Linked DNA regions of Homo sapiens: region 2 is linked to region 1. The links come from fine-mapping of genetic effects on gene expression. Tissue or cell type: whole blood. Region 1 holds a variant in brackets; the other region holds the start of a gene. All regions are shown on one strand. Distances are from middle to middle.

Region 1 (8,180 bases):
GGCAACACCACAGGGACCGGACATTCTGAATCTTCCCAGACCCGCTCTGAGAACATAGGCAGCCACCGCATCTTCTCAGGAAAGCAAAGCGAGCCTACTCTACCCTCACAGTCCAAGCCACTGTGGTCAGCCGGGAAGCCGCCCACTGCCCCTGACGGCTTTCGTTTTACCTAGGTTGCCCTTGGCACAGAGCTGGCCTGTAGGCATGTGTGCACAGGTGTGTCCATGTGACCGGCTTCCCCACACATGTGCCAGGCGCCCAGCACCCCCGCCAGGTGGCCTCACTCTGCCCTCTGCCCAGGAAAGCAGGAAGGCCCCGTGGTGTCCGCTGCACACAGGACAGGCCTCGGGCCCCACAGACACCTCCCACGTCCGGTGTGGGGCCAATTCCGTGTTAGTTGCCTGCTGGTTGGGGTTAGCTCCTGCCACCCTCAGGGCTCCTGGAAGGTGTCTGCCGCTCAGGAGGTCAGCACAGCCTCCTGTTGCCATGACAGCCAGCTGCTTTAAAACGCCCCTTTGACCTGCAAACCACGTGCCCAGTGTGGTGTGATCCGCGAGACACTTTGGAAATGGCTGAGGACGAGGCAGGTGTATTAGGAGGGTCAGCGAACTGGGGCCCAAACCTGGTTTGAGAGGGGAGTGCTGGGGGCATCCGGTAGGAGGAGGGGCAGGAGGGAGGCCTGGGCCTGGCCGCCCCCCAGCCCCCTCTGGGGCACCCGTCTGAGTTCTGCCCCAGTTAGTACAGGAATGTAATGAAGTGCGAGGTGACAGAGTCCCTGCTCTGGGGACACCGGCAGTGCCGCGAGGCATGGAGCGGGGGCTACTTGCCCCCTTGCACCTTCTGGTCGTAGGTGCCTGCGTGCTTGTAGCCGGACACATAGCCTGACTCGTCCACCAGATCCACGCGGCCAGCCTTGCCCTTGCCCTTGCCAGAGGGGTCGAAGCGCTCCTTGTGGGAGCCCGTGAACTTGGTGGTGTCCGTGAGCCTCGACACTGTGGGCGACGAGATGGCTTTCTGCAAGAGGAGCAGGAGGAAGGGGGCAGGTGAGTTGCGAGCCAGGTGAGGCCAGCAAGTGAAATGGCTGTGCCCTGGGCAGGTCTCCCAGCGGTGGGGCACTGGGCAAGGGGCATAAACCCTGGGATTTATGCCCCTTTTAATTCTTATTTTTACCTCTCCTGACCCTGGGGCAGCCTTGGGCCTGCGGGGTGCCACAACCCTAACAATTGCCCAGGTCCACCTGGTGTTTATGTAGTTGGGGACCCCACCACCTGCACCCTCAGAGGGAAGGGGCTGTCAGAACAGCCAGGCCCCACCCTCCAGGCTATGCCCCCCCAATCCATGCCCCTTCAGACCAAGCCTCCCCAGGACCCCCCCAGGCCACGCCGACCTGGCCATGCCTCCCAGGACCCACCCACCCCCTCCCAGGCCAACTCCCAGTCCATGCCCTTCCTGACCACGCCTCCCCAGGCCTCACCCTCCAGGCTATGCCCCATTCATGCCCCTTCTGACCACACCTCCTCAGACCCCACACCAGGCCACGCCCTCCTGACCACGCCTCCCAGGACCCCCCCCAGGTCACGCCCCCAATCCATGTCCCTCCTGACCACCCCTCCCCCAGGCACCACCCACCTTCCAGGCCCCGCCCCCACCCCCTCCAGGCCCCGCCTTCCATCCCCGCCCTGCTCACCGTCACCCCTGAGATGATGGGCGCCTTGCCCTCGATGAGCCTGTGCACCTCGCGAACGGCCTCCTCGCTGCTCTTGTCTTTGAATCGCTTCTTGGCGAGCTCCTCCAGCGCCTCCTGGAACTGCTCAAAGGTGATGGTCCGGCAAGACTTCCCTCTACAGGGGCACAGGCGACTTAGGGCTGGGCGCGGGCCGGCCCAGGGCTGCCCTCCCCACGCGTGGGTCTGAGCAGAGCTGGACAGCCATGGCCCAGCAGCCCACAGGCTTCACCCACAGGCGGCCGCCCTGGTAGCACTGCAAATCCAAACTGTCTTGGAAGAAAGCTTGGCGGAAGCAGGTCCTCTATAAAGCTGGATGCTCACACGGCCCTGCAGGCCGCTCTGACACAGGGTGTGTGCGGGTCTGCACTCTGCTGGGGCAGTGCCGGAGGCCATTAGGCAGCGGAGCCCACCTCCTCCTCCCGGGGCCACCACAGCCCCGCCCAGCTGCGCCGGGAGCTGGGGGTCCTAGGACCTGCTGGGGCCCCGGCTCTGCCTGTGTGTGTTGGGGTCCTAGGTGGAGGTGTCCCCCACACAGGAACATGGTTAGGAGGGGCTGCCGCCCCCGGACACTTGGCAGCATGGGCGCAGGCCCACGCCTCAGATGCCCTGGCTCCAAAACCCGCCAGGCGGCCCCGCTGTGCCCTTGCACTGCTCTGGCCTCAGAGGTGCAGAGCCCGGTGGGCCGGAGGTGCCATGAGAAGCTTCTGGTCACACAACACGCCACATCTAAACACAGTCCACGCCTTACAACATCCTCCCACCACAGGCCATTCAGGCAATTTTAGAGGGTTCTAAACTGACTCTTGGTTTTTATATAATAATTCTAATTAGAAAACATTTTTCTCCTCTGACCAGATCTACCACAACTAACCCAAAGTGGGGTTTTTCAGTGTTTAAAACAAGAGATCCTGTGGATGAGGCTCAGCTCTGCAAAAGGCACCTGCATTTCACCAGGGAAGCCTCTGGACAGCGCGAGAAAGGCTGCACCCAGCAGGCCAAGCATTCCGAGGGCACTCCCAGCTGCAGAATCCACAGTGACCAAGAGTCAGGGGACAAATGACCCATAAAACCCCAGCAAGCCTTTCCAGAAGTCAGTGAGCAGAGGGCCTAGAATAGCCAAAACGATTTCAAGAAATGAGAACAGAGTCAGAAGACTGACTACCCAACTCCAAAGCTCATCGAGGCTTGACTGCAAAGTGGCAGCGACGTGGGCACGGGCACGCGGCCAGCCCCGCAGCCCAGGGGGAGTCTGGCTCAGCCACATGCATGCTGCCCCCCCGATGTCTACAGGTGCAGAGGCAAGCCAGAGAGAAAGGACTGTTTCTTCCACAAGTGGAGCTGGAGCAACTGGTGATCCCTGTGCAAATTAAAATGCACTTTGGTCTATACTGCACACTATATACAAAACTAACTCAAAATAGATGACGGTCCTAATTATGAAACTAAAACTTCTAGAAGAACACCAAAGAGAAGATCTCTGTGACCTGGGGTTAGGCGAAGATTTCTTAGAAATGGCAACAAAACATGGCCTATAGTGGAAAAAATGGATGAACTAGACTTCATCAAAACGTTCGAAACTCTGCTCTCAGAAGACACCGTTAAGGGAATGAGAAGACAAGCCACAGACTAGGAGACATGCCTGAGAAAGGACTTGTCTCTGAGATACACAAAGGAACCTTAAAACTCAGCAGTAAGAAAAAAAATCCATGTGAAAAGACGGGCAGAATATTTGAAGCAGACACCACCAGAGAAGACACGTGCATGCAGACAAGCACACGGAGAGGGGTCCGCGTGGGCCCCATCAGGGAAGTACAGACAAGCACACGGAGAGGGGTCCGCGTGGGCGCCGTCAGGGAAGTACCGACAAGCACACAGAGAGGGGGCCGTGTGGGCGCCGTCAGGGAAGTACCGACAAGCACACAGAGAGGGGGCCGTGTGGGCGCCGTCAGGGAAGTGCGGACAAGCACACAGAGAGGGGGCCGTGTGGGCGCCGTCAGGGAAGTACCGACAAGCACACAGAGAGGGGGCCGTGTGGGCGCCGTCAGGGAAGTACCGACAAGCACACTGGAGAGGGGTCCGCGTGGGCCCCATCAGGGAAGTACCGACAAGCACACGGAGAGGGGTCCGCGTGGGCCCCGTCAGGGAAGTACCGACAAGCACACGGAGAGGGGTCCGCGTGGGCGCCGTCAGGGAAGTACCGACAAGCACACAGAGAGGGGGCCGTGTGGGCGCCGTCAGGGAAGTGCGGACAAGCACACGGAGAGGGGTCCGCGTGGGCGCCGTCAGGGAAGTACCGACAAGCACACAGAGAGGGGGCCGTGTGGGCGCCGTCAGGGAAGTGCGGACAAGCACACTGGAGAGGGGTCCGCGTGGGCCTCGTCAGGGAAGTACCGACAAGCACACAGAGAGGGGGCCGCGTGGGCGCCGTCAGGGAAGTGCGGACAAGCACACGGAGAGGGGGCCGCGTGGGCGCCGTCAGGGAAGTGCAGATGGAAACCACAGCGAGGCCCCTGCACACTCTCCAGGGGGCTCAGACAATCAAATAAACTGCCGGCACCTCGAGCTGAGCAGGCCGCGGGGTGGGGGCCTCGTCCACACCCGGCCGAGCAACGCGGCAGAGCCACTGTGGACAGCTTCTCATCACAGCCAAAGGTGGCCCAGCAGTCCCGTTCCTGGGTCCTTGCTCAAGAGAAATGAAAACAGAGGCTCACACATAAACGCAAATGTTTACCACTGTTCTGCTCGTAGTCACCAAACCCCAAACAATCCAGTGCCCTTCAGCAGCGGCCAGACCACAGTGCTGTGATGTGTGCGCACGTGGACAGCACCCCCACCCCTCGAGAACAAGCCCAGGATACGCACCCAACGCGGTGGGTGCCAAGTGGCCAGGCTTGGAGCCAGGCACGGAGGTGCCGCTGGGTGATTCCCAGACCCCAAGGCGGATGCTGTGTTTAAACAGCACCTGAGGGTTCCCATACACTTTACACGCGTGTCCTAAAGACACAACAGACACCATCAACAGCGCTGAGCCAAAGAAGAAATCGCGCTGAGAAACACACCAAGTGCTCGGGGTCCCACAGCTCAGACCCTCACGCCTCATGGGGTCCCAGGGAGGGGAGCGGAGGCCTCGCTGTGTCCGGAGGGGGCT[T/A]TGGGGAGACAGAGCCCCAGGGCGGGGCCTGGACTGCTGAGGGCAGCCACGCAGGGCACATTCCAGACCCGCCGGCCATAGGGCGCTGTTGTCCAGCAGCATCCCCCAGGGGGCGCTGGTGAGCCCGGTGAGCCGGAGGTGCCCTGGGCAGCTCTGTGGCGTGGGGGTCCGCGGTGTTGGGGGTGGATTTAGCCCCTTGACGCGCTCGGCGTGGACACCCGCACGTTCCCTGTGGTGCTAGAAGAGCCAGGCCACCCCAGGCAGCCCACAGTGCCTGGAACTGACAGTGCCCATTGGGCCCTGTGGGGGTGTTGACTCTCTGGGGCCCTTGGGGCCTCTGTCTGTCCTGGGCCGTCAAAGGCTCTCCTGTCTTCTATTCCCACCCTGCCCAAGCTGACATGCGGACGCCAGGCCTGACTGCCAGCCTGGTGACCAGTGCTGAGGCACGCAGCCCTTTCTGACGGCCTCGGAGCCAGGCACCACCAGCATGAGTCACTCGGCGGGAGGGGGATGGCTGAGGGGCTCCCCCATCAGAGGCGACATTCAGATCCGGACACCTGCTCTGCGCGCTCCCCGAGTGTCTCGGGGAAAGGGCGCCCGGGTCTCTGCCCCACACGGGCGGGGAGCTCTCCCCAGGAGACCCGGGTGCCCCCCGCCTGGGGCAGTCCTCAGGAGTTCTAGGACAGCGGTGCCTGCCTCTTCCCCAGAGACACTCAGTCTGGCTGCCCGGCTCTCCTGACATAGAGTGGGCCTGTCCTCCAGAGACCAGGGTGCTGGAGGAGCCTCCGAGTGTGGAGCTCGGCATCCTCATTGCCCATGCTCTCCCCAGCCCGGCGCCCTGCCCCAAAGCCGGCCCAGCAGGACGCAGCCGCTGCTCATACACGATGCCCTGCGGGGCCTGGACTTGCTTCCCAGGCTCTGAGTCCCCTGGCCTCTGGGCCTGGTTCAGTCTCTCAGGGACACTGGGACCCGGCCTGGGGCCTCCAGGAGCTGGGCTCAGGCCAGGACAGCCCTCCGAGGACTGAGGCCTGTTCCTCCGGGGCGGACGTCACAGGCCCCGCTGGGCTCGGGACTGTGCATCCAGCACCCTTGTGAATCAGGAATGCCCTCCCATGGTGCCCTCTCTGAGGGGCGGGGGCCGGCGGGCGAGGTGACAGCTACCAGCTCCCCTGGGCTCTCTGGGCCTGCAGCTGCTGTGGCTGGAGTGCCCTGTCCAGAGGCTGCCACAGGTGGGAAGCTGGGGGCTGTGGAGGGGAATCTCTGGGGAAACAGCCTCTCCCTGTACTTAGGCGAGTCTGAGAGAGAGGGGCTGCGGCTCCCCCAGGGCACCAACCTCTGGGATCTTCCATTAGCCCCTGAGACCTGAGGAGGCTGGGAAGGACTCCCTGGCTGCTGGGCCCCACGGGGGGAGGGGGAGCTTCTGGGGAGGTTCCTACCTGGTAGGGACGCGGCCTTAGGGGAGCCCTGTCTGGCATCGCCATCCTGCACGTCGCTCCGAGTTCTCACTGCTCCAGGAGGGTCCAGTGGTCCCGTTCCAGCAGGACCCAGCCTTGGGGTTCCCCATGCCTGTTGGCCGCCCCTGCCTCCCGCAAGCCCCAGCAAGATACAGAGGACCTAGAGCAACGTTTCCCGGGGCCGACAGAGGTCGGTGGCAAGCCCTCCAGGCCCTGCCTATTCTCCCCTCATAAGTGACTCCACCAGCAGCTGAGCACCTGGGGGCAGGTGAGGTGATGTCTGGCCACCTGAGAGGGCTTCTCCCCTCATCTCAGGAAACCGGAGCCCTTCCTGCACCCTACTTGGCTCAGAGGATGGATGGCAACGTCCACTGGGCCACGGCAGCTCAGGCCCCAGGGCGGGCTGAGGGCCAGGGCCCTCCCATTGCTGCACCAGCTCTAACCCCAGGCACACCCACCATGAAGCCCCCACACAGCCGGTCGGGGGGCTGCCTGAGCTCCGGAGGTCTGGCTACCGAAGGCTCCCCCCTGCCTGAGGGGCCGCCTGGGATCAGCGCACTGTCTCCCTCTGGGCGCACACCCTGCGCTTGCTGCTAATTAATTTTGCGTTGCTGCCGGCCTTTTCGTTTTCCTGGGGAGGGGCGGGGGTGGGGCGTGTGTAGTCACCGCCCTGTGGACATCACTAGGAAGAGGTGGCCCTTGGTGGGACGTGGACTTGGGGCCCAGAGGGACCCCGGGCAGATCTGAGGGGCCCGACCTTCTCTAGGGGGCCCCAGGGGCTCGGCTGCCTCCATCCACCCCAGTCTCGGCCTGGGCAGGGCTTTGGTCTGTGCACCTGAAGTCAGTTTCTGGCTGTTTGTTTGGAGATCACCTTCTCAAATGACCTGTGTTGCCTGGTCAGGCTCATGGGGCAAAGTGGACAGCCAAGGCCACGCCCACCACTGGCCAAGCGCAGGAGACGGGTGCCTGTCGCCGCACAGTGCTCTGGGGATTGCTGGTGCTGCCCGGCCTGCAGGGTACAGGAGCCACAGGCCTTGACTGTGAGGCCACAAGCTCCTGAACCCTCAGCCACAGACGTCCATGGCCAAGGGTCCCCCCGCAGGGGCTCCACTCTGCGGAAGCCACGTTCATCCTGCCCTGCCAGGCGTGGCCACTAGAGGCTCCCCAAAGACAGAACTGGCCCCAGGGCTCCAGAGCCGCCGAGTGCAAGCCCGGGACAGGGTGGCACCCACAGCAATGGAGGGACAGGGTTGGGTGTGGGGAGTGCAGCCCACCCTTCCCCCGGGCTGGGTACCACGGGGGAGGGGGAGGGGAGCAATGCAGCCCTGAGGCTCCTGGCCCCTTCCAGGGAAGCTGACACCTGCTTTTCTGGGATGGACAGACAGGAGGACGTCACACACAGTGCTCTGAGGACCTCACTTGCCCTGTGGCGGCTGCCCTCCAAACACACTGTGACCTGGATTCTCTCCAAACCTGGGTCCTGCTCCTGGGAGGTGGTTGGGTTGGCTTCCGTACTGGGAACAGTCCGAAGACTTTAGGACAAAGTGTCCTACCGGCCCTCCACACTTGGGGTGACCACAGACCCCAGTGCCGGCTGGCCGGGGGGGTGTACCAGGCTCAGCAGCCCTCCACGCTCGGGGCAACCGCAGACCCCAGGGAGCCTGGCCCTGCTGTTCTCAGTCTCCCACTGGCCCTGGCTTCCTTCTAACCAGCGTCCAGGTATCAGTCTAACCCCCAAGCCAAGCCACCACCCAGTATCCACCCAGGTGTCTATAGGAAACGTCAGTGCATTTACTTGGGAAAATACACCACACCCAGCACACAAGCGTGGGTCCTGGGGGAGGCCAGGGC
Region 2 (8,170 bases), 25 kb after region 1:
TGAGGGCCCTTGGACCAGGGCCTGGGTTTGAAGCCACCTCCATACCCCATACACGGTGCTCACTGCTCCTGGCCCCATTGACTGATGACTGATGGCCAGAGGGGGACAGCAGCTGTGTGAAGTCGCCTGGCAGGTGCGGCTGTTGGTGGCACTCCCTGGGCGGAGGCCACGTTGGACATTTGTGAACAAACGAGCAGGTTGGGGTTACAGGTTATAGGATCTGGGAAATGTGGTCTGTGATGCCATGCGCCCTGGGGGATCTCATGGAGCCCACATGGGCAGGCACCTTTTATCATGCCAAGAAGTCAAACGTGGGATGCCATGTGGGGAACATGCCCTGGGTGGGGGAATACCCTGGGTGGAGATGCCATGTGGGGAGGATGCTCTGGGTGGGGAATCTTTGTGGGGGTTGTCCTGGGTGGTGGAGCCTTGGTGAAGGAATGGCCTAGGGGGTGGCTCTGGGAGGGGGTGGCTCTGGGATGTGGATGTCCTGGGAGGGGGATGTCACCTTAGGGGGAAAGCCTGTTGCAGATGCCCTAGGAGGGAAGCCCTGTGTGAGAGATCATCTGGGTGGGGGCTGCCCCGGGTGGGGGATCATCTGAGTGGGGGCTGCCCTGGGTGGGGGATGTCCCCGGTGGGGGATCATCCAGGTGGCAGATCATCTGGGTGGGGGATCATCTGGGTGGGGGATCATCTGGGTGGAGGATCATCTGGGTGGGGGATCAACTGGGTGGGGGCTGCCCTGGGTGGGGGCTGCCCTGGGTGGAAGATCTTATCAGGGGGATGCAGTGGGTTATGGCCCTGTGGCAACCCCAAACACACACACACCAAGAAGAAGCTGGTCTCCCTAGGAGGAGGATCCACGCAGGGCAGCTTGGGGTTTGGCTCGTGGATGCTGGGGACAAGGCCTGAGCCCCAGATGTGGCTGGGCCTGACCCAGGCAGCTCCACCCCTTCCTTCCCAGGAAACACCTTTTGCTCGAGCAGTAGGAACTAGGCGTGTGTAGATTCTGCTGCCTGATCCTGGCTCCTGGCTGAGGGTTTGTGGGCTCAGATGGACTAGACACCCGGCCACAACCCTCCTGGGCATAGCCTTCTGGCTCCCCCAGCCCAGGCGGAGGCATTGAGCGACTCTCCTCACCCAGAGTGTTTTCCCGAAGGCGCTTCTGCCTGAGGGCACCAGGCTGGGCCAGGTACTGCAGGGCGCTGACCAGCACTGGCCTGGGGGCCCCAAGAGCCCCAGATGGCATCCCTCTCACACACTCCCCCTGTCTCACCAACAGCTATAAATAGACTCGGCTCTCTGCTGGCACGGCCTCTCCCGAGGAAGCTTTTAATTCTCTGCGTCCTCTGCAGGGGGTGGCTCCCACAGGCCTGGGAGGGAACAGACTGCCTGACTCTCCAGAGAGCTCCCCAGTCTCCATCTGCGATGGGTGATCCTAATTTTCTTCAGGAAGTTCTCCTGAGCCCTGCGTGTGGCGCTTTGGCCTTTGTGCCCACGGAAGCCCCCTGCGGCCCCTCCCTCCGGGCCCTGCCCAGCCCGGTGCACGAACCCTGTTTACCGATTCCCAGGCCTAGGGCAGCCACTGCCAGTGTGAGGCTTGCAAATTAGGGTAGGGGGTCAAAAGGAAGCCCCTGTTGACCATTTCTGTGAGCATTCTATGCTCATTTCCACAACGAGCATTTATAACCTCGTATAATCGCTAAAACATTTATTGCAACTTCAGGGAATTCGGGAAGATAGACCAACCGCAGCTGTAAGATTAAAACGCAGCCAGTGACCAGCGGAGCTTCCTCCACGCACACGCGGTCCAATCCCCATGACTTCATGTTTTGTGAAGATGCAAAGCGAGTTCATGCCGGCGCCTTTCTGAATCAGAGATCCGTTTAGAAACCATGAAAGCTGCAGACCCCTCCCGGGAAAACGCACACACCCTCCTGGAGCTCGCCTTCTGCAGCCGCTCCGGGAGCCCGCCCCTCCCCCACAGGCCCTCCGAGGATCACGTGGTGGGGAGGCGCTGGCACCGAGCGGCTGACAGGCGCGAGAGCCCAGTTCAAGGCGGCGGCATCAGGCTGCAGCTGCCTCACTCCCCTCCACTTCCTGCCCCTTCCCGGCCTTGGTCCAGCCCCATCTCCTAGTCCCAGGCCACAGGGAGCTGGGTCACCTCCCAGGGGCAGGGGCTGGCTGGGCGTGGGGGGAGACCTCTCCCCCTGAGAAGTCAGGCGGGGAGGGGTGGCCGGGGTGGGCGGAGGGGCCCAGTCCTCTATCGGTCCCCCAGGGGCCCTGCAAGCAGAAGAGCCAATAAACATGCCAGGTGGATCAGCGGTGACACTGAGAGGGAACGCAACACCCCATCAAAACAGCAGCCCCCCAACCCCCATCAAAACAATAGCCCCCAACCCCCATCAAAACAGCAGCCCCCAAACCCCATCAAAACAGCAGCCCCCAACCCCCATCAAAACAGCAGCCCCCAAATACCCATCAAAACAGCAGCCCCCCAAACCCCATCAAAACAATAGCCCCCAACCCCCATCAAAACAGCAGCCCCCAACCCCCATCAAAACAGCAGCCCCCAAATACCCATCAAAACAGCCCCCAACCCTCATCAAAACAGCAGCCCTCAACCCCCATCAAAACAGCAGCCCTCAACCCCCATCAAAACAGCAGCCCCCTAAACCCCCATCAAAACAGCAGCCCCCCAAACCCCCATCAAGACAACAGCCCCCCCAACCCGTATCAAAACAGCAGCCCCCAACCCCTCATCAAAACAGCAGCCCCCAGACCCCATCAAAACAGCAGCCCCCCAACCCCTATCAAAACAGCAGCCTCCCAACCCCTATCAAAACAGCAGCCCCCAACCCCCTATCAAAACAGCAGCCCCCCTAAGCCCCCATCAAGACAGCAGCCTCCCAACCCCACATCAAAACAGCAGCCCCCCAGACCCCATCAAAACAGCAGCCCCCAACCACCTATCAAAACAGCAGCCCCCAACCCCTATCAAAACAGCAGCCCCCCAACCCCCTATCAAAACAGTAGCCTCCCAACCACCTATCAAAACAGCAGCCTCCCAACCCCCTATCAAAACAGCAGCCCCCAAACCCCTATCAAAACTGCAGCTCCCAACCCCCTATCAAAACAGCAGTCCCCCAACCCTATCAAAACAGCAGCCCTCCAACCCCCTATCAAAACAGCAGCCCCCCAAACCCCTATCAAAACAGCAGCCCCCAACCCCGTATCAAAATAGCAGCCTCCCAACCCCTATCAAAACAGCAGCCCCCCAAACCCCCATCAAGACAACAGCCCCCCCAAAACCCTTATCAAAACAGCAGCCCCGCCACTGCCCGGGAGGGACAGGCTTCTCACCTCCCTCGGCTCCGTTTACGTAACCGAAACCGCAGAATAAAGGGCTCCTCAGATCTTCGGGCGCTGCTCCCAGGGGTGCGGGAAGGTGTCCCGGCAGCGCCTCTCCATCGCCACAGGCCCGCGGACAGTAGCCAAGACCCGGGGCAGCTGGAGGCTCTGCGGGGGGCGGTCTGACAGCCCCACCTGCCAGGACGCGGTGGTGTCAGGACCCTGAGATGGGCCGTTTCTGTGGCCAGGGATCTCTCAAAACCTGCTGCGGGCAGTGACTTCATTCCAGCCCTCCACGCCCTAATTTCCCACGCCTCACACCGGCGGCCCCCTAGGCCTGGGAATAGGGAAACGGTTCGAGTCCCGAGCTGGGGAGGGTCTGGAGGGAAGGGCTGCAGGGGCGTCCGTGGCCGCGAAGAAAGGCCAAAGCGCCAGGCACAGGGCCCGGAGACGGTGACAGACCTGTCCCTGGCGCGGCCGACGGTGACCCCCGCTCGCGGCCTTTGCAAAGCCTCCCCGTCGCGTCCTCGCACCGAGCCCGCAGCGCCGAACTCCGGGCATCCCAATCCGGGGGCTCAGGGACGCGCGGGGCGGTCCGGGAAGGGGGCTCGGGGGAGCGCGGGGGGCAGGGGCTGCGGCGCAGGTGGCTGCTGGGGCTGACGGGCCCAGTCTCCGCCCCCGGGTGCCCCCCGCGCCGCGCCCGCGGGACCGAGCCCCGCGCCCGCTTACCTTGGAGACGCAGCGACTGCAGCGGAGGCGCCTCCGCGACTCGGCCGCGCGCGACCCGGTGCTCAGCGGAGCTCTCCAGCCGCCGCCCCGCGCCCGCCCGTCCCGCCCAGCACCGCCCAGCCCCGCCCAGCCCGGTCCCGGGCCCGCCCCCGGCCCCCAGCGTCCGGCGCCCGCCCAGCGTCCCGCCCCGCGCGCTCATTGGCAGCCCCGCCCCCGCCGCCCCACCCGGCCCGGGGACGCGCGGGCGCACCGAGACCTCTGCCTTACAAGGCCGACTCTGCTCAGGCCCCGCGGACCGCCGGGTATCCGCTCAGCGCAGGGCGCGGCCGACCCGCGGGTCGTGGGAACCGCTGGGCAGGGGGCGGCGGGGCCCCTCACCTGGCTCTGGGGCCCCCCGGGGACGACCGGACCCCGATCTCTCCGCCCCGCAGGACGCGCGTTGACGGTGCGGCGGGGGATGGATGAGCGCGGCCGCGGCCTCCTGGGGTGGGGTGGGTTGGCGGCGGGGCCTCGAGGACGGTGCGGGGCGAGCCCCGACCGCGCCCAGTTCTTTAAGGAGCCGCAGACGGTGCAGGGAAGCGGCAGGGCCGGGCTGTGAGGGTGCTCGGACCCCAAGGCGGGGCGCACCCAGGGGACTGGGCTTCCAGGTGGGGGCAGCGCGGCCGGGGATCGACCTGAGCAGGGAGACGGGTCCGTGCCGGGCGCCCAGCGCAGCTGCTCGGGAGTGGGCCGCCCTTCACGCAGGAGTGGAGGAGCGGAGCGCGCACCCCTGACCCCGGCCTCAGCTTCCGTTCTCCCTGCAGGTCGCCCGTATGCAGCGCCACCATCCCGGCCGCTCTTCCAATCTCGCCTTTCTCCGGGCACCTGCCGCCCCTCCCCCGCTCCCCAGACAGGCTTTGCGGAGGGGGCTCATTCCGCCCGGGGCTGCCCGGCCCTCCGCAGGAGTTGGCTCCCCACAAGGTTCCGGGGCCGAGATGACAGGGCGGTTCTGTGGTGCTGGGTGCTGGGACTTGAGGGGCATAGGGGCACCTGCCCTGGAGGAGGCCGAGGCGCAGCCCCCCAGGAGGAAGGGGTGCCTCTGGTGACTTTCAGCTGGACTCTTCCAGCTGGACTCTAGTGCAGCTGAGCTCCTCCCCCAGCCCCGGCTCTGTCCCTGCACCAGGTGTCCAGCAGGCCCTGGAATCCGCAAAGGCAGAAGGGGAAGTTGGGGTGCTGGGTGCTGGGCAGGGGGTGCTGAGGCCTCACAGCCCGGCGGCTTGGCCCCCACCCACCCCACGGTGGTCCCGCGCCCCACACTTCCTCTCCTCTCCTGTGGTTTCTCCTTCCACTCAGTGCTGCCCAGAGATGGGCTTCTGTCTAGTTCTCCTGAGAAATTCCACACTCGCAGCTGGGAAGTCGGGGGACCCCCGAAGCTGTGCGGCGGCCACGCTGCGGCTCCTGCTTCCCTCCTGCTCGGGTGCGGGCTCGGCTGCCTTCTCGTCCCGCGGAGCCCGGAGTGCCTCCCCCTCGGGTAGATCCTACTAACAGCATCAAAGAAATAATGAAATAATCTCTCCTTGGTGTGTTCTTACCGTCCTAATAGGCACAAGGGGACTCTTCAGTGCATTTTCCAAAACCTGTACAAACTCTCTTGACATAAATGCAGTGAGTTTACAATAAAATCGCAGTGGGAGGTAACGTCAGGCTTCAGAGGCAGACATGGTCCTGGAGCCTTTGGGAGGAGAGGAGAGGAGAGGCAGCGGGCGCGGGGCGGCGTCCAGGGGGCTGAGCGAGGTCTGGGCAGGAGGACAGAGCTGAGCCTTGGGCTGCCCTGGCCCCTGCGCAGGACACACAGTGACCGGGGCTGGGGTGGGCACCCCGGTTCTACCGTCGGGAGTCGGCGTGTTCATGGAGTCTGTTTCCTTGTCTGTGGGTGAAACTTTGGCTTGGGGTCACGGGTGTGTTATTTCCCAGCGACAGTCGGTTCAGTCAGCACTTACAAAATCACCAGAAACAGGGGCACAGGATCTTGCTCAGCAGGGAGAGGTGGATCCTGATTCGGGACTCCAGGCTCTTCACCTGGCCATGGCTGCCCGTCCGGTGGCCCTTCCTGGCCCCCAGCTCTTGCTCCACTGCCAGACCTGGACAGCCTCCATTAACCCTGCAATTACTGAAAACCGACTCACAGCCAATGATGTGATCCACGCCAAGTGTCCCGTTATAAGATGTTTCCTGGGGATCCTTAGAAAATCACTACAAATGGGTTGAACAACAGGGCTTTCCTCTTACGGCTTAGGAGGCCAGAAGTCCGAGATCAAGGCCTGTGCGCTCCGGAGGTTCCCACCTCTTCCAGCTTCTGTGGCTCCAGGCGGTCCTGGGTGGTGGCCGCATGGCTCCACCTCTGCCCCTGTCCTCACGGGGCCTCCTCCCCCGAGTTAGTGTGTCTGTCTCTTCCTTTGCTTATCGGGACACCTGTCACTGGATTTAAGGGCCGCCAGGAGAAGCTGGGATAATCTCAAGATCTTTAATCGAATTACATCTACAAAGATCCTATTTTAACGTAAGGTCTTACTCTGAGGTTCCGGGTCAATGTGACTTTCTTGGGTGGGGGTCACTACCACCCCAGCACCAATGCTTTTCCCAGCTCCACCTGTGTTACCGTGTCAGTGACCAGGAGCGTTCCCCGGGACACCTGCCTGCTTGTAGCTGTTTCCACGGCTTCCTGCACAGGTTCTGCGTCCGCAGTTGGGAGCACCAGGCCAGGCAGCTGTCACATAGGAGGAGGACAGCTCTCCGGGACAAGCCCCTGCTGCCTGGCACCCGCGCCCACCCCTGCCTGGGTTTGGGGTTGGGTTTTGTGGGTAGAGGTTCAGGCTGACAGTGGAGGTTGGGAAGAGCAGACACAGCATGGTGGGTAGCACTGGAAGCCCTGGGTGGAAGGGATGGTGGGAGATGCTGGGCCATCTGGGTCTGCAGTGGGAGACCAGGACAGGAGCCCAGGTCCATTGGGAGGCCCCATGCTGAAGACAGAGGCACGGGGAGCGGGGGGAGCAATGGACTCACGCGGACAGCAGCAGACATGAAAAGGCCTCCGAGGCCAAGTGTGAGGATGCCGGGTCCCAGCACTGAGGTGTCCTGCAGCTGGACCTGTCAGGTGTCCACCCACCCCTGGCAGCTGAATGTCCTTTGACGGCCTATAGGCTGAGCAGCTTCTTTGGGCCCCGTAGGGGTGTGTCCCACAGCAGGTGAGCAGTCAGGGCCCCTTGAGAACCCTAACCAGCTCCTGTGTGGGCCCTGGGCTGGGGACAAGCTACAGCCTAGGTGCATGAGGTCAGAGGGGGTGGTCAGTGAAGTAACGACGTGCCTGCCTGGGTGTGGGGCCTGGGAAGCCTCATGGGGGTGTTGAAGCAGCTCCCATGGGTCCTTGGCAGCTTAGGGAAAATGTCTGCCGGGATGTGTGTGTGCACCTGTGTGTGAGAGTGTGAGAGTGTGCACATGCATGCGTGTGTTTGTGCATTCCTATGTGTGAATGTGCACCTGTATGTGTGAGTATGCATGCCGGTGTATGTATGTTGGTATGTGTTCAGCTGTGTATGTTCAGCTGTGTGTGTGTCTATTTGTGTGTCTCTGTGTGTATGAGTGTGTCTGCGTGTGCCTGTGTCTCTGTGTGTGCATGTGTGTTTGCACCTGTATGTCCACGTGCCTGTGTCTGTGTGTTTGCATGTGTGTGCATGTGTCTGTGTGCCTGCGTGTGCCTGTGTGTGCATGGGCCTGTGTGTCTTTGTGTGCATGTGTGTGTGTTTGCACCTGTGTGTGTGCACGTGCCTGTGTGTGTTTGGGCTGTGATTGCATCTGGTTATTCTGGGGGTGGAATTGCTGTGGAACATGGAATTAAAGTGCAGGTTCCGGGTCTTGCTGCCAGGGAGCGACTCTGGCCCCCCTATCACACACCTGTGACCCAGAGAACGGCAGGTGAGCCTTGCGGCTTCACTGTTGCCACAGGTCAGGGGCTGATGAGGAGGGGAAGCCAAATGGGGGGTGTTCAGCCCTAGGCTGAGCTGCTTGGAGCACATTCTTAATACGCCAGCCATCGCTACCTCAGTTCCACAGC

The links. PIP is the estimated chance that this variant, and not a neighbour inherited with it, causes the effect.
Region 2: it holds the start of TPPP, and the variant in region 1 is fine-mapped to the expression of TPPP in whole blood (TOPMed, PIP 0.98).

The regions. Positions count from the first base shown.
Region 1 is chr5:664,282-672,461 of GRCh38, forward strand. TPPP (tubulin polymerization promoting protein) reads right to left here. Exons shown (of 4, transcript NM_007030.3): 3 at 1,689-1,842; 4 at 1-1,015. The coding sequence ends at 821. It also overlaps a transcript of CEP72 not described here. Among named protein-coding and RNA genes, the nearest start is that of TPPP, 25 kb to the right of the region's middle. RefSeq lists enhancers at 1,190-1,359, 4,770-5,524, 6,813-6,982, 7,345-7,514, 8,112-8,180. The variant T/A (reference allele first, on the strand shown) is at 4,876.
Region 2 is chr5:689,198-697,367 of GRCh38, forward strand. TPPP (tubulin polymerization promoting protein) reads right to left here and starts at 4,155. Exons shown (of 4, transcript NM_007030.3): 1 at 4,081-4,155. It overlaps LOC101929898 (a long non-coding RNA gene), which reads left to right and starts at 4,343. Exons shown (of 2, transcript XR_925675.4): 1 at 4,343-4,525; 2 at 4,884-8,170. RefSeq lists enhancers at 3,581-4,163, 5,077-5,955 and a silencer at 4,158-4,407.